2 separate regions of the Homo sapiens genome follow, and region 1 is linked to region 2. A link means that fine-mapping ties the variant in region 2 to the expression of a gene that starts in the linked region. Tissue or cell type: whole blood. Region 2 holds a variant in brackets; the other region holds the start of a gene. All regions are shown on one strand. Distances are from middle to middle.

The links. PIP is the estimated chance that this variant, and not a neighbour inherited with it, causes the effect.
Region 1: it holds the start of FZD1, and the variant in region 2 is fine-mapped to the expression of FZD1 in whole blood (TOPMed, PIP 0.94).

The regions. Positions count from the first base shown.
Region 1 is chr7:91,258,511-91,267,657 of GRCh38, reverse strand. FZD1 (frizzled class receptor 1) reads right to left here and starts at 3,225. Exons shown (of 1, transcript NM_003505.2): 1 at 1-3,225. The coding sequence starts at 2,777. The coding sequence ends at 834. RefSeq lists silencers at 2,481-2,540, 2,631-3,140 and an enhancer at 3,261-3,440.
Region 2 is chr7:91,294,323-91,305,944 of GRCh38, reverse strand. No RefSeq gene overlaps it. Among named protein-coding and RNA genes, the nearest start is that of LINC02932, 11 kb to the left of the region's middle. RefSeq lists an enhancer at 9,801-11,622. The variant TG/G (reference allele first, on the strand shown) is at 5,916.

The DNA.
Region 1 (9,147 bases), 37 kb after region 2:
ACCGTGGAGGGAGGCTGAGACTGCCAGCGCCCACACCCGTGGGCCCCCATGAAGTTGGAGGAAAGTTCTGGACAGTTAAAAATCCAGCTTCAGGAAGTCGAAGGGACGGGCCTTCGCAATCCACCGCCGAGCAAGGGAGGAATTGTAATGTATGGGGGCCCTCCTCCAGATTTGGAAGGTTTGTGGAGTTCTGTACCTTAAGAGCCCCTACCTCAAGCCAGGAAAGAAAGGGAGGGGACAGAAGGAGGGGGAGGGGGCAAAAGGAGGAGGCGGGAAGTGACCCTGGCAGCGCAGCCCTAGTCGCACCCCGCAGTGCTGAACTCGCCCCGGAGCTGGCGCCCAGCCGTCCCGAGCACCCGTGGTAGGGAGAGGCGCGCGAGGACGACCAGGAGCGCTGTGCGGTTGCACACCAGTTTTAGCTCCTTTGCAATACTCCGAAAAGGGCAAGAAGGAAAAGCCTCAAATGGTTAAACCGCCCTAAATAATTAAAAACTTTTGAAAAAGAAAAACGCGTGATCGGTCGTCATTTAAATACAAATATACTTACAAAAATCTTACACAGGCTATTTACAATCATAAAAGCGAACAGTCCTGGTACCAGAGTGTGAGGGCAAGAGGTCTGTCCATCCTCCCTCTGGCAGTCGGGCCCTCGTGTCCTTTTGCCTCAGGGACGGAAGCTTTTGCAGGAGCTGAGTTGTTCAAAGGAGCCTGCGAAAGAGAGTTGTCTAGTGAGGAAACCTCGAGATGTCAGGATTGGCACGAACTCCACGGCGCTGGCTTTGGGGGATCGCTGCGCCCCGGCCGAGGCCTGGGCATGGGCTGAGCCCCGGGTCTCAGACTGTAGTCTCCCCTTGTTTGCTGTTGGTGAGCCTCGTGTAGAACTTCCTCCAGGAGTTGAGGGTCTTGCCGGACCAGATCCAGAAGCCCGACGTGATGCCCACGATCAGCGTCATAAGGTACTTAATCATGAAGACCGTGAAGTCCGGGCTCATGGGCGGGTGCGGCGGGGCGCCTCCGCCCGCCTGGAGGTGAGGGCAGGGGATAGCGTAGCTCTTGCAGCTCTGGGCCACCCAGCTGCGTTCCCACTGGTCCCGGAAGGCCTGCTCGTAGAAGTAGCAGGCGATGACGATGGTGGCTGGCACAGTGTACAGCACGCTGAAGACGCCAATGCGCACCATGAGCTTCTCCAGCTTCTCGGTCTTGGTGCCATCGTGCTTCATGATGGTGCGGATGCGGAAGAGCGACACAAAGCCGGCCAGCAGAAAGGACGTGCCGATAAACAGGTACACGAAGAGGGGCGCCAGCACGAAGCCACGCAGCGCGTCCACGTTGTTAAGCCCCACGAAGCACACTCCGCTCAGCACATCGCCGTCCACCTGGCCCAGCGCCAGGATGGTGATGGTCTTGATGGCCGGCACAGCCCAGGCGGCCAGGTGAAAATACTGTGAGTTGGCTTCGATGGCCTCGTGGCCCCACTTCATGCCAGCCGCCAGGAACCAGGTGAGCGACAGGATCACCCACCAGATGGAGCTGGCCATGCTGAAGAAGTAGAGCATCATGAAGAGGATGGTGCAGCCCTCCTTCTTGGTGCCCTGCGCCACAGTGCGTGCCCCGTCCTCGGCGAACTTGTCATTACACACCACTCGGTCTTCCAGGAGGAAGCCGGCGATGTAGGCCACGGCCACGGCCGTGTAACAGCCGGACAAGAAGATGATGGGCCGCTCCGGGTAGCTGAAGCGCCGCATGTCCACCAGGTACGTAAGCACCGTGAAGAGCGTGGAGGCGCAGCACAGCACTGACCAAATGCCAATCCAGGTGCGCGAGAAGCGCAGCTCCTCGGGCCCGAAGTACATGAGCCCATACACCTTGGTCGGCTCACAAGGTGCGCCGCAGTCCTTCTCCCCCAGGAAGTGGTAGTTGAGGTAGGAGGGCACCTTGAGGGCGCGCGGGCAGGAGAACTTGCCTCGCTCCGACGCGCCGGCGCCCCCCGGGAAGCCGCCACGGTGCCCTCCGCCGCCGTGCTGAGGGTTGCTGGTCCAGAACTCTGGAAGCAGCGAGGGCGTCGGGGTGCCCTTGTCGGACGTGTTCTGGCCCACGCACAGCTCGCCGGCGCCGTGCACCGGGAACTTCTCACACTTGAGCGTGTCTGGCCACTGGAAGCCGAACTTGTTCATGAGCGCCTCGCAGCCCTGGCGCGCGCGCTCGCACAGGGAGCGGCAGGGCGGCAGCGCCTGCTCTAGCACGGTGCACACGGGCGCGTACATGGAGCACAGGAAGAACTTGAGCTCAGCGGAACACTGCACTTTCACTAGAGGGTAGAACTGGTGCACCTCCAGGCCCGCGTCCTCCTGGTTCGTGTGGCCCAGCAGGTTGGGCATGATGGTCTGGTTGTACGCGATGTCCGTGCACAGCGGGATGGAGATGGGCTGGCAATAGCCGTGGTCCGGGACGGAGATGCCCCGCTCGCCGTTGTACTGCTGCCCGCTCTGTTGCTGCTGAGGCGGCGGCGGCGGTTGCTGCCCCGGCCCGGGCCCCTGGCCTGGCCCCTGGCCCGCCGCCTGGGCCCGGACCCCCAGCAGCAGCGGAGCCTCCAGCAGCCAAAGCAGCAGCAGCAGCTGGCGCGCCAATCGCCGGGGGTCAACTGGCGGGCGGCGGCGGCCACCGGCGTCCCCGCTGCCCTCCTCCGCCAGCCGGGCCGAGAGCGCCCCGGCACAAAGTTCCCAGCTCGCGCCACCGCCGGCGGCCCGGGACTTCTTAGGCGCCTCCTCCTCAGCCATACTTTCTCGGCTCCTCTCTTGGCGCCGCTCCGCTGGGGCTGCCAGGGGCACGGCCGGCGGCGGCTCCCCCTGCGGCCAGGGAGACCTCTGCGCGGGTGCCCTCCGTCGAGCCCAAGCCGCTTTCGGCCCGCTCCCCCGGCTCCTGTTCTGCGTACCGCAGCCGCCGCCGCCGCGGAAACTTGCGATTCATGAAGCGCGGGCGGCGGGGAGAACCCGGGTGGCTAGGGCGCGCCGGGGTCGTGTCCCGCCTTCCTGGCCCTCGGCTCGCTGGCTCCCGGCTGGCGGCGCCGCGCTAGTGGCCGCGGCCCCGTAGAGAGCGCAACTCTCCGCAGCCCAGCGGGCTCGGCTCCCCCCTGCGCCTCCGCCTCCTTCTCCGCCGCCGCCGCCTGACCATTTGTGTCAATCCCTCAACTCGCTCCCTCTCCTCTGCCTCGCGCGCCCTCGGACCGGTTTCCAGGCGCCCCGTAGTCTGTCTTTCACCAGGAGGGAGGAGCCTTGAAACCGACGCAGAACTGGAGGCTCAGGGACCGTCGCCCAATCGCGGCTCCGGCTTCCCGGCGCAAAGGGAGCCGGCCGCCTCCTCGCCAGAGCGAAAGCCAGCGGCAGGAGGGCGGGGTAGGAGGAGGCGGGAGGAGGAGGAAGTAGTGGTGGTGGCACTACTCAGGCACAAAGAGTAGGATTGCTCTGAAGCGGGACAGGCTTGGTTGCTTTTGCTTTTTCAGAAGAAAAAGGCGAGGATACGTAGGAGAATGGTCCCATATGCTGCTGGAGATAATGAATAGGAGTCAGAGGACCGCGGGACTTCGCTTTTCTTTTATTTTATCCATTATCATGTTTAAAAATCCTGCTCTTAACGCTGGTTACCAACAGCAAACCGGGTTCTGCTTCCAGAACAGATGCCTTTGACTTAAGGAGCGCACGGTTTCCTTTGAGTTTGTGTCTGTCGAGGTTTTGTTTAACATATTACATTAATAAATCCTCCAGTTCGCAGGCTGGGCTTGGCGGGCTTTGGTCGCGCCATTTCCCCAGAGGAGACGTTCACGGGATCGCTGTCAAATGAAACAAAACACAAACTTTGATGGAATTTGGAAAGTAAAGCCAGATGCGCCTTCTGCTACTATCATTCTTCTTGGAGTCAAACTCCTTTTTTTCCGCCTCTTTAATCAAGTCAGAAACAGAAGCAAAAGAAAACTATCCATTAAATTTTTGGAGAGAAAAACTTAAGAACCCGACGACCGAGGCAGTGGGGGCGCCTCTCTGGGATCGTCCTCGCCGCTCCAGACCGCAGAGGTGGCGCCGGCGGGAGCTGCACTCGCCGGCAGCTTGGGCCCCTGGGGAGCCTTTCTAAACCCTGGGGACGCCCACGGCTCCGATGGGAACTCCTGGGACCTGGGCCATTTAGGTTCCACAGGCTGGGCTGCAGAGCTGGAGACGCCAGTTTAATAAACAAAACAAACAAACAGTCTGAAAGCAAACAGCGAACTGCACATTCTCTTCCTAATTCCAAAACAGCATAATCCGTCTCAACAGACGCACATTAATGTTGTTTTCCTTGTAAGATTATTTTAAATGATGGTTTGACTATGTAATTCAGTTTTATAAGAAAAGTGCCATTGGACTATTAATTCTTCCATTTTTTTTTTTTTTTTGCCTGTGATCAGACTCTATCTCAGCGTACTTTTCACCAATTACTTTCTATCATTCATTTACACATTCATTTGTTTAATAGATACCAACCACCCATTGTGCTATAAGCACTCTTAGGTCGTAGAGTATAAAATGAAGGAGACCTGTGCCAGCCTTAGAGAGGGGCATAGTACAGTGAGGCACAGAAATGCAAATCACTTGTTACAGTGTCCATCCCAAAGCCAAAAAGGCACATAGAAAGCAACCAGCTCAGATGAAATGGGGTTCTGACGGAGAGGTAGGTGCAAGGTGCAAAAGATTAAAGCTCAAATTCACTTGAATTGCTGAAGGGGGCCAGAGAGGTGAGTGTAGCTGAGGCACTTTGAGGGGAGGCAGGAGAAAAGGTTTTAATCCAGACTAAAACGTTTGGGCCAAATTATACAGAAAATAGAAAACTATTGAAGGTCACTTTCCCCACATAAGCAGGGAGTGATTCCAGGGTGACTGAAAGAGGGCACCTGAGGCAGGCTGTCATTAGGAAGCTTTAACATTCATCTACACATAAAGGTTACTACTTAGATGGGTGTTACTTGTACTACATGCTAACAAGTCTCTGAGAATTTCACTACCCAGCATGTTGGTGTCTATAAAGAAGGTGCAGTCATATCTTTACCTGCTAAAGCAAAATGACATCTGTTTGTCTCAGATACATATGTTATTGTTTTTCAAATGTTTATATAAGCAGTACCTTCATAAAATGCATTTTTGCTTTAAAGTATTTGATTGCTAGCATTTTTTTAAAGCAACAGGTACTAAATGCACAATTATGTGAGCATGTGTACGTGTGTTGACTGTAATTTATGACACATTTTGATATTGAAAAGGAGGTTGGGAAGCACAGCTCTCTGAAGTCCTTTGAACCGTTCAATAAGTGTTCATTTTCACTCTAGCATCCTGGCCCCCAGGCTCCCAGGGACACTTTTTCTCTAGCCTTTCCACTCTGATGCTCATTCCTCTGCTGATAGTATCCCATGTTTAGGAACTTTATCAAGCCATCTCTCTCCTATCACTCCTGTCTTGGAAAGATTTAACCTGTCCTGTGTTCTATTCTCTCAAGTCATTCGAGCTGACTAGGCTGAGTGAAAAGTGAATTTATTCTGATGTGTTAATTACCAAGAAGCATCACGTGTTAAACATCCATCCATCCCTACCATCACTCCAAATCCTTCTCCTTCTCCCCTAAGGGGTTGGGGCACAGAGATATGGCAGAGCACTCAGTTCTGTTTCTCAGAGTAGAAGACACTCTCTTGCTTCAAAAGTTGTTCTACTGAAATTCTTGAACTTGTTTTATGTTTCACCTGACAGTGAAGTTTACTACGAGGAGGCTCAGAAGTACAGCTAGAGTTAGAGAGAGAGAGAGAAAAAATGTCATTCTTACCAGATTATGAAACTGGAAGCAACCAAAAATGTCATCGAGAAATGAGTTAATTTTCTGCAATCTACAATTAAGAATATTGGATCCAGAAATATTAAGGGATGTGCCTCACTTTAAATGGCCCTATTTGGCTTGAATTTCATTAGAAGCTTATTTTAATCCTTGTATGTTATTTTAAGTAGCTATAGTTCTTTTTATCTTTTTTTAAAAGTTAGTTTTCTGTGGAAGTTCTCCCTCAATAGAATGTGTAAATAAAAGACCTTATAACATTTTTAAAAAATCATTTTCTGAGAGTTGTCTTTCAAAGTTAAAAAAAACCAACAAACTTGATTTTCATTTATTATACAAATACAATATTTAATTTATCAAAACTATGTAATACAGAGGAAGGTACTAAAATCAGAAACAATTCCGAGTTTTAGTCAGTAATAACCAGGGTCATGAAAGGAGGTCTGTTGGGGGAGGTAATGAAGGCAATGGGTAACAAAATATTAGAAGACAAATATGAGCAGTGTATTTTAACAGAATATAAAATGTAATATTTTCTCAAGATGTGGAAAAGTTTGAGATCCACAGATCAAAATTACTAAGTAAGTATGAACTATTATGAACTTGGTAATAAAAATATTTCAGTTAGGTCAAAACTATAAACATAACCCAATTCTTCCTTGATACTGCTTTGTCAAGCATCAGACTCAGTCAAGTTTTCTCATATCAAAGATCTTGTTTTATCAGGCCTTTCCCAAATCTTCTGAAGTTTCTCCAGACTGCTTATGTCAGGTTGAATGTGGATAATTAGCAGGGATGGAGATCCAGTTCCAATTACATATAGTTGAGTGTACACAGACACACAGGCAGTTAGGTGAACGCTCCATGTGCAACCCAACCTGAAGGATCTTAAGCTTTTAGGTGAGTTGCTTTTTTGCTGGCTTGTGAGTGGCTGACTTGAATTGTCTTTGTTGAAGAATAGAGATTAACACAGGTTAAGACTATATTTTTGAACACCTACTGTGTATACTTGGTGTTATTTTGCACGATGTATCCATACGTTGTGTTGCTTAAACTTTGAGGAAGGTACTAATTATCTTATCCCTTTTTTTTTCTTTTTCTTTTTTTTTAGAGACAGGGTCCCATTCTGTCTCCCAAGCTGGCATGATCATAGGATCATAGTTCGCTGCAGCCTCAAACTCCTGGGCTTGAGCAGTCTTCCCACTTTAGCTTCACTAGTAGCTGGGACTACAGGTATGCACCATCATGCCCATCTAATTTTTTAATTTTTTGTGGAGACAGGGTTTTGCTGTGTTGCCCAGGCTGGTCTCAAACTCCTGGGCTCAGGCTGTCCTCCCACTCAGCCTCCCTATGTTATCTCCTTTTGATTGATGAAGAATTGAAGGCTCAAAACAATTAAGTAATTTGTACAAGATCCCATAGCCAGTAAGTGCCAGAGTGGGGCTTGTGTCTGACCAAGGTCCATGGACTTCCAGTTAGTAACATTATGTGATCATGTCCACTGAAAAAATTGTAGAAGAAAATGTGGTTTCTGGGAGCACACCAGATGATTGCTCGGTATTTAACATAGTTTTCTATACCAGGATATATATGCTAGGGGCTTAAATGCTGGGATTCACTAATGAGTTAGACCAGCATTTTCCAAACTGTGTTCTGTGAAATACAATATCTTCTCCAAAGGCATTCTGTGAAATAAATTTGTTCAAATAAGTTTGGAAAAAGGCCATATTCTGTGTCCTTATTGGAGATTCACATTAGCCTAATATAATCTCTGAGAATTGCTGAGCTTAAGAACCCTTTTAAACTTTTTTCTTATTTAGTATTTCCCACATTTGGAATATACATATACATACACACACTTGGAATACACACATGTATATACATACACACATACATAGACACACATATATATTACACTGCATCAATATTTTGCTTGACATTAATGCTCTGTGAGATTCAACTTGAAAAATGCTGAATTAGACCTACTATATTTTGAATTTTTATTTTATAAGGTTGGACTCTCACCCTATATTACTTTTGAATGTCAGTTGTAGAAAGTGAGAACTTGGCCTGCTATGCTTTGAGTTCCTGACTCTTCTTGAATTCCTAGTGAAGGGAAGTTGATTGCTTAGGGAGCTGATGGTGGTAGAGAAAACTCAGACCATACTATTCCCTTCTTTCTGGGTGGCACCACCTAGGGGTCTATTATATTGTCTTTGTAGAGACACATTAGGTATAACTCTACTAAAGCTTTCAGCATAGTTCTCTATTTCATTTCTTCTTGAATTTCCAACCCAGAAATTACTACATAAGCTATTTCTTATTTTCCATAACATCTGTATTCTTCTGCAACAATTCTAAAAATGAATGTCTTTTCTTTCTTTGTTTTTTCTTTCTTTCTCATACAAATCTGCTCTCGACATTGGTAAAATAGTTATTGAATTCATTCACACACAGAGGCTCAATTTGTAGACTCTCTTTAAAAATATATATATATATATTTATTTATCTATCTTTCTGTAAAACCACTTATCAAAAGAGATTTTCAGTGTGATTACCTTGACTTTTATCTTATAGAGTACTTACAGCTGATTGATATTAAGATCCTGATTGATATTAAGATCCTGAACTAACTTATTATTTGAGAGTCAGCCATAATTTGTTATAATTTACATTTTAAACATGGCAAGACTCAAAGATTTAATATAAAGGTGTGGCTCAGTAGTTCTAAATATGAATCATGGATTACTTGTACACAAATCTCACAAAACACATTTTTTATTTAAAAAAAAAAGATAAGAAGTATGAAAGGGGAAAAATCACCATCACTGAATTTTCATCAAGGTAGGATAATAATTAACCCAAATTTTCTTGTAATTAAAAGATTAAACTATAATAGGAGACTTTGCTAAATACATTACTTAAACATCAGTTTCGCCAAAAAAAAAAGTGCATATAAAAAGTACCTCATGACTCTGTTTTAATTAGTTCTGTTGTCATTGTCATTGTGCAATTGGAAATGGTGTACACTATCTGGGAAAACTTTTGTAGAACATACAGGCATTTATATTAGATTTAGAATGTAGTCCTTCTTCGAGGCCCTGGGAAAGAAATAGAGATGGGTCCTTGTAAATTAAAACCTTACGCCTCATGTGTTTAAAGAGGCCTCTCTGATTGGCTAAGATGTGGGGTGCTGAGTTTGCAATCATTTCAGTGCAGACATTTTAGGAGAATAAGTAAGACTTGTGCTTCTGTAAGTCAACATTTCTGTTCTCCCTTCTAGATGATTTGTTTGTGTAT
Region 2 (11,622 bases):
TGGAAAAATATTATCGGTATTGGTTTGTTCAGCATAGATTATCTCCATTTTTTATAACAGACATTTCTTTGATATTACAGTCAGCCCTCCTTATCCATGGGTTCTGCATCTGTGGATTCAATCGACCATAGATTGAATATACTTGAGAAGGAAAACAAATGGTTGTGTCTTACCTGAATATGTATAGATTGTTTCTTGTCCTTATTTCTAAGAAATATAGCATAACAACTATTTATATTGCATTTACAAGGTATTAGGTATTATAAATAACATAGAAATGATTAAAGGTGTACAGGAGGATGTGCATAGATTGTATGTAAATACTACCCACTTTATTTCAGAGGCTTGAGCATCCATAGATTTGGGTATCTGCAGGGGGTCCTGTAACCAATCCTCCATGGATACTGAGGGATGACTGTATATGTAAAAATATTTGTAAAGTAAATCACATTTGAAATGAGCTTTGTGCTTTCCAGTCATTGCATTTTGCTCATTTTACTCCCTGCTTAAATTACTTTCCCTCTGTTCTCTGTCAACTCAAATTCTATCCAATCTTTCTGGGTCACTACCAACAACACTTATTCTCTGAACCTCCTCTAAGGTCATCCCAATCCTCATCGTTTTCCTACTCATGTGAATTACTACGGGATCTGCATTTAATTATAAAGAAACTCAACAAGCAACTGTTGACCAATTACAATGAGCCAGGCCCTGGAATTGCTACTGGAGACATAAGATGAACAGGATGCTGTTCCTGTCCATTCTTAGGAGACATAGAATCCAGTGGCAGGAGACAGACATACTAAGAGAATCATTATTCCAAAAAATATTTTTATAAATGAAGGGCATATTTATGGATAAATACTGCATCAGAAAGATCAGAAAGAAAACCAATCACTCACTAATTTGTCTTCTTGGTAAATCTGGATTTTCGTCTGAAGCACAATGCACAGCTAAGCTTTCACATATTTTTTCAGAAATAAGAAAGTTGCCCTTTAAAAGTAGTTATAGGTTTTCTACCTCCATAGATAGAGAAAAAATTCACCTTTATAAGAAGACTTCTCTTTTCATTATGAGAAATAATTCTAACATGCATTTTCATTATGCAAAGTTAAAGCTAAAATGCTACTCTGGAATGGAGACAATTGGGACAAGTAGCTAAACTACTTTGCATAAAGATGTAAACATTTGACTTTACTGTGGTAAGAATTACATCTTGCAGCAATTAGCCTTTGCCACAATGGTGTATTACAAACAACTTCAAAATTCAGTGACTGAAAAAAATTATTTTGTTTCTCCAGATGTTTGAGTCAGCTGGGCAGGTTTTGCTTCACATTGCAGGTCTGCAGGTCTGGGTCTTCCTCACATGTCTTTCATCCTTTTTGGTCCCATTGAGTTATTCAGGGTACATTCCTCTCATGGTGATGGCAGAGGCACACCAAATGGCAAGCCCAACCACGCAAGCACTTTTCAAACTGCTTTTTGCATCACATCTGCTAACATTCTATTAGCCAAAGCAAAACACATAGTCCAGCCCAAAATTAAGAGGCTGAGAAGGACATTCCATCTTTAGTTGCAGAAAATGCAAAACTACCAGGCATAGAATGTAGACACAGGAAATAATAAAGAGTCAGATAAAATAATTCAACCTCTCAGACCCCATAAAGATATTGATTGAAATGTGTTTGAAACTGAGGGAAGGATTTGGGGTTTGCAGTTATTCTCAGTGGACCAGAGAAAGAAGAGATTTGAGAGTTCTCTGAGCAGCAGGCTATGAGACAGAGCACATTAAACAGGGAGGGCTCTTGAAATCAATACCTGTGAAAAGGAGTGAAAGGAAGCAAAACTGGGCAAAGGGAAAAGTTGAGCTTTGATGTGGTCTCAGCAAAGGGTTCAGGCAACTCCATGGGAAGTGTTGGAACTTGTGGCCCTTCAGAGTTGTCCCAAGTTGGGGCATGGTGTCCAGGCTTTTATATCTCTGCTCAGTCAATCTTCACAATACCTTTGCTTGATCAGGTCTTGTGTAATTTTGGCCATAGGCAATCTCCAATGAGGGCTGATAGGTGAGAACTGTCTTTTGGCAGCACTCACAGGAGTCTTCATTTTGAAGAAGATCTTGGTTGCAAAGCACTGCACCCTTACAGCAGCTACTATGTTCTAGGCACCATTCTAAGTGCTGGGGATATAGAAAAAGAACAAATGAATAAGAAAATGTATCACACGTCAGACGGTGCTGAATGTTACAGGGAGAAATAAAGCAGGGTCACTCAACTCCAGCCACATAGCATCCTTGAAATTATTCAAACCCACCATGTAAGTCCCCATTCCAGGGTCTTTGCTACCCATCACTTATGGCCCCACTCCCTTTAGGTCTTGGCTCAAGTGCTCCCTTCTCAATAAAGCATTGTATCACTATTCTGTTGTAAATGTCAGCGTCTCCAACATCCACCCATCCTAGCATTCCTGTCTCTCTTCTGCTACTGGCCAGTTTTCTCTGTTCTCCTAAAAAACCAGCACTCTGCTCCCCTGGCTACCTGCTGCCCTTCTGAGACTTGAATATCCTTGTTGGGGCCTTATAATGACTTCTTTTACTTTCTTTTTATTTCTCCTAAATAAGTAAAACATGGCAATATTAAGGAAGGAGAGTGATTACTTTGTGAGAGTTCCCCCATCCCCTACTCCTGCCCCATCCTACCCTATGCTCACCATTAAATAATAATTTTTCTCAACACTAGAAGTAAACTGGAAAAACATACAAATAGGAAACTCTGATTAAAACTGATCAGGTTTTTTTCTCTAAATCAAGTTATTTTCTCTGAAGAATAGAAACATGAAGCTTCATGTGAGGTGATTCAAACCAAAGTGACTGAAAATGGCTGCAGACAGTGTACACACACATGACTGGTTTCCTATGAGGCCGTTTTGCTTCCTTCTTCTGTGAGTACAGGCTTTCCTTAGCAAAATCCTCTCCCAGCAGGTCGAGCCCTGTTTCTGAGTGCTCCTTGACTAATGCAGGTATTTGTTTAGCTATTGCCCCTCCTGTCTTCCCAACTGGTTTCAAATGCTTTCATACTTGAAAATGATCTCTTTAAAATCACCCTGATTTTTCCCAACAGATTATTGTATTTGGAGTAATAGCATGAGCTGAGGCTGTATAACATGGGGTGGGGGAGAAGTTTAGGCAAACTTCTTACAGTTCGGTTTTCAGTGTGAGTTAAAAACAAACCAGCCAAGTGATAGAAATACATTTCAGACCCAAGGAAAAGATAAATGTCATCCTTTTTATGCTGTACAGTAAATGTGTGCAATTTATCTGTTTAAAAAACGTAGGCATTTCCAACCTGTAACATATAGGCATGGTCATTTATGCGAGTTAGGTATTTGATGCCTTTGCTAGCACAGCCATCTTCCTACCATTTTACTTTCCACTTCCTTTTCACTCCTAATCCCCAACCCCACCCCAGTATACCCATTCCAACCCACCACTCTTTATCCTCCAATCCACAAATTAAAGTATTTCTGCTGGGAGTTATATATTCCACTGCTCAACAGGAGTTCACCACTGAAATTCTTGTAACTGAAATATCCAGATGGTTGTTCTAATTTTTCACTTAGCTATTTGGCTTGCTTGGTTATTCTATCTCATTTTATTCATCCTCAAAACATTTTTGAAAGTTATGTTCTCTAAAGAATAGAAACATGAAGCTTCATGTGAGGGGATTCAAACCAAAGTTAGGAATTATAGTTCACTTCAGAAGGCAGGTTTTTCAAAACAAATATAGACTGAAGTAAGAAGGTTAACGTGCCTTTAAATGTTTGCCTTTTCTATATAAATAGGCTTATTATTTATTGAAGGTTTTTGAACAAATATTTATTGAATACTTACTATGTGTCAGACATTGTTCTCAGTGTTTAGAATATCTCAGTGAACAAAAAACGAAGACCCTGACACTGTGAAAGCTTAAGTTTGAGATAGGAATGCTGATAATAGACACAAGCATAATAAATAAATAAATTATGTAGCTTGTTAGAAGCTTTTTATACAATACAAGAAGCGTTTCCATATAATATGGGGAGGAAAAGAAGAAGGAAGGTACTATAATAGGAGAGCAGGAGGTGTTGGGGCACAATATAGCATAAAGAGGCAGAGCAGGCTTATTGAGAAGTGGTATTAGCATAAAGACTGAAGAGCTTTTCAGGCTAAAGTAACAGCCAATGCAAAGGGCCTGAGAGGGGAGTTTGTCTGGCATGTTTGAGGAACAACAAGGAGGCCAATGTGGCTAGAGCAGGGCAAATTGGGCAAAGAGAAAAAGGATCAGACAGGTAACTGGGATCCGAACACTTAGGGCCTAGCAGACCATTGTAAGGACTTTGGCTTTTACTCTGAATAAACTGGGAGCTGTTACAAAATTCTGAGCAGAGAAGTAGGGTATTTTTGGTTTTTTGTTTGTTTGTTTGAGACAGGGTCTCACTCTGTTGTCCAAGCTGGAGTATAGTGGTATAATTCTAGCTCACTGCAGTCTAGAATTCCTGGGCACAAGTGATCCTCCTACCTCAGCCACCTAAGTTGCTGGGACTACAGGTGCACACTACCATGTCTGGCTAATTTTTAATTTTGTTTGTAGAGAGAGGGTCTCCCTATGTTACCCTGGCTGATCTCAAACTCCTGGCTTCAAGCAATCCTCCTGCCTCAGCCTCCAAAAGTGTTGAGATTACAGGCGCAAGCCAGCAAGCCCCCCCACTGGGTCCATATTTAGGTTTAAAAGGGTCACTCTGGCTTCTGTGCTGAGACTAGATGGTGGGTAGAACAAAGATAGAAACAGAAAGGTTAGGAAGCTGATGACGGTGGTGCAGACCAAGGCGGCAGCAGAGGTAGCACTGAGAAATAGTCATGTTATGGATATAGGATGAAGGTAGAGCAAGAGATTTTCTGATGAATTGGATATGGAACATGAGAAAACTATGAGTCAAGAATGATCTCAAGGTTGTGACCTGAGCCCTGGGAAGATGGTGTTTCCATCAATTGAGATGGGAGTGGCCGCCAGAAGAACAAGTGAGGGGGCCATATTGGGAGTTCTGTTTTTGACATATTCAATTGAGACAACCAAATAAAGACGTTAGTAGATAACTGTATGTGAGCCTGGAGTCAGGAGAGAGGTGTGGGATGAAGAGGTAAATTTAGGAGTCTTAGGCATTTAAGTGGTATTTAAAGCCATGAGATTAGATGAAATCGCCTAAAAAAGGAAGTAAAGATAGAGAAGAAAAGAGAATCAAGAACTGAGCACTGGAGATCAACATTCAGAGGGAAGGTAGAAAAGGAGAAGTCAGCAAATGAGACAAAGAAGAAGCAGCTAGGAAGATAGGAGGAAATTCAAGACAGTGTGTTGTCCCAGAGCCAAACGAAGACGGGTCAAGTAAAATGAGAAGTGAGAATTGGCCACTGCAGTTAGCAACATGGAAGTCACTAGTGATCTTGACAAGAGCAGTTTCAGTGAAGGAGTCGAGGGAAGCAAAAGCCAGACTGGGGAGGATTCAGAAGATAATAAAGGAGAGGAATCAGAAATGGCTACTAAAGACATCCCTTTCAACAAGTTTTGAGGCAAGCAATCCAAAGAAATGAGGTGATAACTTGTAGGGAAAGATGGGAGAATAACAGCATGTCTGTAAGCTACTGGGAATGATCCAGTAGAGAAGAAACATTGTGATAATATAGGAGTCAGAAAAGATAATTGCTAAGGCAGTGTCCCGGATGGGAACTAGTCATGGCTGGAGGGACTGGCTTTAGTTAGCAAAATGGAGACCTTATCTATGATAGCAGGTGGGAATGTAGCAGATGAGAGGCAGATGGAATGAGTGTGGACATGTGATTATAAGGGTCAGGGGAAGTTCTCTTCTAATTGCTTCAGTTTTCTCAG[TG/G]AAGTAGAATGCAATATCATCAGCTAAGACAATACAGATGGGAGGAGGAAATGTCAGAGATTCGAGGAGAAAAAAGAGAATATCAAATAGTCAGTGAACGGGTGAACAAATGGACTAAAGAGGCGTAGGGTGATTAGTGGAATCAGGACGGGTTCACTTGAGTTTGTGCTTATGAATTTAAAGTGAGATCAATCAGCATGGTTGTGTTCTTTTCTTCTCCAGCTCCAGTAAGTTACCCAGGTGCAGATACAGAGAATGCAGAGAGTTTAATTTTAAAAACCTGTGGTTTTTTTCAAACAAGCATTAAAAAAAGTAGAAAAGCAGCAAGGAAATTTTTTTCCTTGAAGGTGTGTGCAATTGAGAGTGATTATTGAGGATGGAATTCAGCTGGGTATGGAGGGGAGTAAGGACGTGAAGTGGTGATGGACAGTGAAAGGGTGGTAGAAGAATTGGAGGTCCCAGTCAGGTTAGAGTATTAGAGAGAAAGTCGGGCAATGTTGATCACATGTAATACATGACATTGAGAGAACGAAATAGCATGGTCTAGCAAGGCCTGCCCATGGGAGTGGGGACTGCAGAGGGGAGGCCACACAATGAGGGAAAAAGAGGTCGGGGATCTAAGATCACAAGACACTAGAAAGATGATTCATGCATATGGAGATCACCAAGAAGTTAAAACCCCAAAAGGTAAATTAAGGAAAACAAAGTTATGCTACAACTGTGCAATGAAATATTATACAGTCATTAAAAACAGAATTTTGGAAAAAATAGTTAAAGACATGAAGAAATGATTAAAAAATGCTAAGGGAGTAGGGAATCCAAGATATTTAATTTTATATGTAGTACAATTCCATTTTCTTAAATATATCTTTGTGCATAGAGAAAAGACTTGAGGAAATAAAATGTCAGTGGTATTTATCTCTGGGTGAAATTTATTGTTTTCTATGTATCTTTATTATTTTCTAAATTTCCTACAAAAAAATAGGGAAAAAATCATTAACAAAAAACAACAAAAGAGAGTAAACATATTATCTCTGGTGCATTAAATTTCATAAGAGCATTTTTAAAAATAAATAATTTAGTCACAGCTCCCAGATTTCCCACTGTCTTCTGTGTGTTAGTTCACTTAGGTAATGTGAGATGTGACACAGTTTTACAGCCAATTTCTGAATTTTCTTTCATCTTCAGACGGTATTTTTTCCATATAAGAGTTTTCTTTTCAGTCAATTGAAACTCTAGAAAGTTGTGTTTCTGTCCAAAAGTTCTCCAAATGGAGATGTTCAAATTTGAAGTAAGCTTTCCTTCTAGAGAGGACACATGTCCTTTACAGAAAATATGGGAAAACAGTAGCTATGTTTCTAAAGCTTAAGCATCCAAATCTGGCATGGAAAACTAGAATGGTTATAACTTAGATTGCTTTAGTAGATGCTTCTCCCATTCAGGGATAAGTTGAGCGGATAGGCTTCAACTGTGGGGTCTTTGTCCTTTGGTAAGGTACACTGAAGTAAGCATATTTAAAGAGAATGTCAGTTAATTTTAAATTTGTAATTAAGTCTGGTTCAAAGTAAAAGTAAATACACACAAACGCACCCTTCTCTCCACCCCGGGAACAAAATACATGTTTGTGTTTGTGAACCTAGTGGTCGTCTTATGTTTCACTTTTAGTTTCAGCTTTTCCTAAAGGTTTTTATCCCTGACCTATTAAAAGAAACTCCACAGAGAAAAAGACCCCCCCCCTCCTTGACTCTCAATCAAGTAGATTTCTACCTGTCCTTCTCTCTAACATCCTCTGTAGTCTCATGTTGACAATAAAGAAATAGGTTAGGGAAGATAATATAAGAAAAGATTTAGGATTGAATCACATGACATTTGATTTGAAATTGTACAAAATTGTGAAAGCATTAATCTCATGCTGACTCGGTCTGAGGAAAAATCCCATTTATCATTTTGGAAATTTTTTTATTTTTAATTTAAACCAATTTACAATACAACTGACACAAGAAAACTAAAAAGAAAATGTGGCTGAATTTTAACCATTGAAAGTTCATGTTGTAATCTCTGCAGAAAAGTCTGGAGTAATTTTGAGAGGAAAGAAAACATTGTCTAAAAGCTGAAAAAATATCGCTTTTAAGCATGGAATTTCCTAAGTCATGAGAATCTGAAATCACACTGCTATTTCCCTGGCTACTAATTTCAAATCCTTGCCACTCTTGTCTGAAAACCTACTGCCTACAGCCTGGCCAGAACACGGGGTGGGGATGCTCATTTGTAAAAGGCTGCCTGTATCTCGCTTTGCCATCGCCCCATCCCTAACCACAAAGCCAAGATGAGTGAAAAAGAAGATCCCTATATTTACATCAGATTTACATTAGACCTTCAATTCAAACATACAAAGTGTGCAGTGACTAGGCAACTTATAGCCCTTCTTACCATAGGAACTTTATTCCACTTTTATGGTAGTATAACTAGCCTGAAGATGAGGGAAAGGCCTGAGAGGTCATCTAGAGCAGTGGTCCTCAACATTTTTGGCACCAGGGACTGGTATTATGGAAGACAATTTTTCCATGGACTGGAGAGCAGAGGAGGGGTGGCGGGGGTGGAGTGAGAAGATGGTTTTGGGATAATTCAAGCACATTCCATTTATTGTGCACTTTGTGCCTACTATTATTACATTGTAATATATAATGAAATAATTATACAACTCTCCATAAAGTAGAATTAGTGGGAGCCCTGAGCTTGTTTTCCTGCAACTAGACAGTTCCATATGGGAGTGATGGGAGACAGTGACAGATCATCAGGCATTAGATTCTCATAAGGGGTATGCAGCCTAGATCCCTCATATGCACAATTTACAACAGGGTTTGCCCTCCTGTGAGAATCTAATCTAATGCCACTGCTGATCTGATAGGAGGTGGAGCTCAAACAGTAATGTGAGCAATGGGGAGTGGCTGTAAAAAACAGATGAACCTTCTCTCCCTTGCCCCCCAGCCCAACTCCCCTGCTGTTGTGTGGCCCTGGTGTTTGGGGACCCCTGATCTAGAGCCCAATCTTGTAACTAGGAAGGCACATGACTCTCTCCAAGGTCAAGAGGCTGAATAGAAACACTTAAATGAAGACTTCAAAATTAGATTCTCTTGTGTACATGTATCTACAGTAGAGTGTTAAACACACATCTACCTTCACAGTATTCAAATCGCTCTTTACTAAGGATTTAAAGAAGCAAATTTTCAAAACTTGGCTATAGTTACTGGCTCAATCATTTGCTTACTATAAACTAGAATTCCTTCTTATTTAAATGTAACATTTCAATTGCAGGAGTTCAAATACATTGTGTCCTGAATAATCTTAAGGTACAAATATTTCAAAATAATACTTTAAATAGAAAAACCTGTCTTTGGTACATTAACACTGAATTTTTCCCTTTCTTCCTAAGCCAGCCATGAAATACCTACTGATTCTAAATGAAGTAAGAACTTGGTTATGTGATTCAAAAATGTCAAGAATCTCTGGCCTGCATGATCTAAGATAAATGGAAGTTTGTGCAACTAACATGATTTTGGTAAAATGTATTTTTTAATTAAAAGAGTCATATAATTATATTAAAAGCTGTTTATGTTAAAACCAAAATCAATACCAGTGATAATAACTAATACTTACGAAGTGATTACTAAGTGTTAGACATTGTGCCTAAAGATTTACTATATTATCTTGTTTTATACTTTCCACAATCCCTTGGGGATAGCTATGGTTATTAGGCTCATTTTACAGTTGGGGGAACTGAGCACTAGAAAAATTAAGGCATTTGCCGAGATAATAAGCTAGCAAGTGGCAGAATTGAGATTGGAGCCCAGGTAGTCTTAACCACTCTATCAACCAGCTCGCATAGAACAGTTATTAGCAAATAAGAAAAGTATGGCTTTGTATGAGTTTAGTTTTCAGTTAAATGGTGTGTTTCACTGATGGCTGATGTGATTAGCACCTTATAAACCTTGGAAATGTTGCTTGTCAAGCATGGAAAAGTAAAATATTTGTGCTTGCTATTCTGTTCCCAAGACTAATTTTTAAAATTCCATAATATGTTAAGGTAATAATAATGAAAAAATTAATTACATAAACAGGCCATTAGGTTAAAAGCCTACACAAGCATGACCTACCAATTTTCCAAACTGATGGTAGAAATTAGTATGTTGATGGACTTTAACCACTGCATAAAAATAACCCAACATGCCCTTGTAAATCATTGTCGAACTCATTACTCATTACAGATTGTACTTCTCATTATCATGCCACATGTAAAATCTTGACAAGATTTGTCTGACATCCAAACAAACTCTTATAACTAACTCAAGCAGCATGTTTCTATGGTATGTCAGCCCGCTGCAGGTGTTTCTCTATCACAATGAATAATTACATCAAACAAAGACAAGAAATATTCTAAAGCTGACAAAACCGCACATCTGAAATCTGTATTTTCTACCTCTTGGGAAATTAAAATCTACAAGTATAGGGGCTTCAGTGCCCATGTCTTGGGGCCATTCCAGGATTATAAAGAAAGATTTTTTTTTTTTGCAAACCCAAGTATTATAACAGTACAGGAAATTAAACTGTATTTATAGACTGGACACCAGCACACCAGCATGCTTTCTTAGCTCTTCAAATCTCCCAACAAAAATAAAAACACTAGCAATCAAATGGGTGAGCAAGAAATGACAAGTATTTTGACAGCTCTAGAATACTTTGAGGTATTTTTAGCATATTTCTGAGTCGTATTAGCTTAACCTGTTATAGAATATAAATGAGCCCATATGGCACAGATGTAATTATGCTCCATGTGAGAAATCCCTGTAGTAGGTTAAGGAGGGGGCTGGAAGAGAATACACCAGCCCCCACCTCCCTCCCCACCCTCTCCCCCTCACCACATGTGCCTTCTGGAGGGCATGATTTACACATCATTTGCATTGAGAAGAATATGAAGAAACACAATGCTAACAACACAGTACTGAAAAGGGCAAGCAAAAGATTGGGGATCCCTAAGGGTGCTGCTCTCTGTGACTGACATCCGGTTAGGAGTAGAGGCAGTTTCCCCTGGGGATCACATTTGATGAAGCGATCTTTGATTATGTAGGCACAGCAATCATAAGGCATAATTATTATTACTGCAAAAGAATGGGCAACAAATCTCTGGGGAAAGCCTCTGTCACAGACACTTTGCTGGCGCACGCTGGAAGCGAATGTTCTCCCAAGGATCATTTTCATTCCAACCTGATATTTAGCTGAAGCTTCTTTGACTACCAGTCATGAAACATTAAATATAGATTAGAGCCAGAGAGATGTTGAAAGTTGAAATTCACCGGAGGTGCAAGCTTGTGTCCTTGAGAAACAACCTTGAATGCTGTCCAGATGTTGTAGCAGCAAGGCAGAATGGTCCCAAGCTGCAAGGAGCCAGCCACAGAGGAAAGAGGAGATGTTTAGCATTCTACCAGCCTTCTGTTTGCTTTATCTGTACTACATTAATTTAGCAGAGAATCCTAACAGGCTGTTAGTGGTAGATGTTGCAAAGTGTTCACTATCCCGAAAGAATGAAGAAATGCTTTTGCGCCAAGAAGAGGAGTAATTCAAAGCACGTAATTGATTTTCTACAGTTTCAAACTGTGATAAGACTAAGGTCTAGCAACAGAAACATATCTTAGCAGTTTTGTCTGTGTT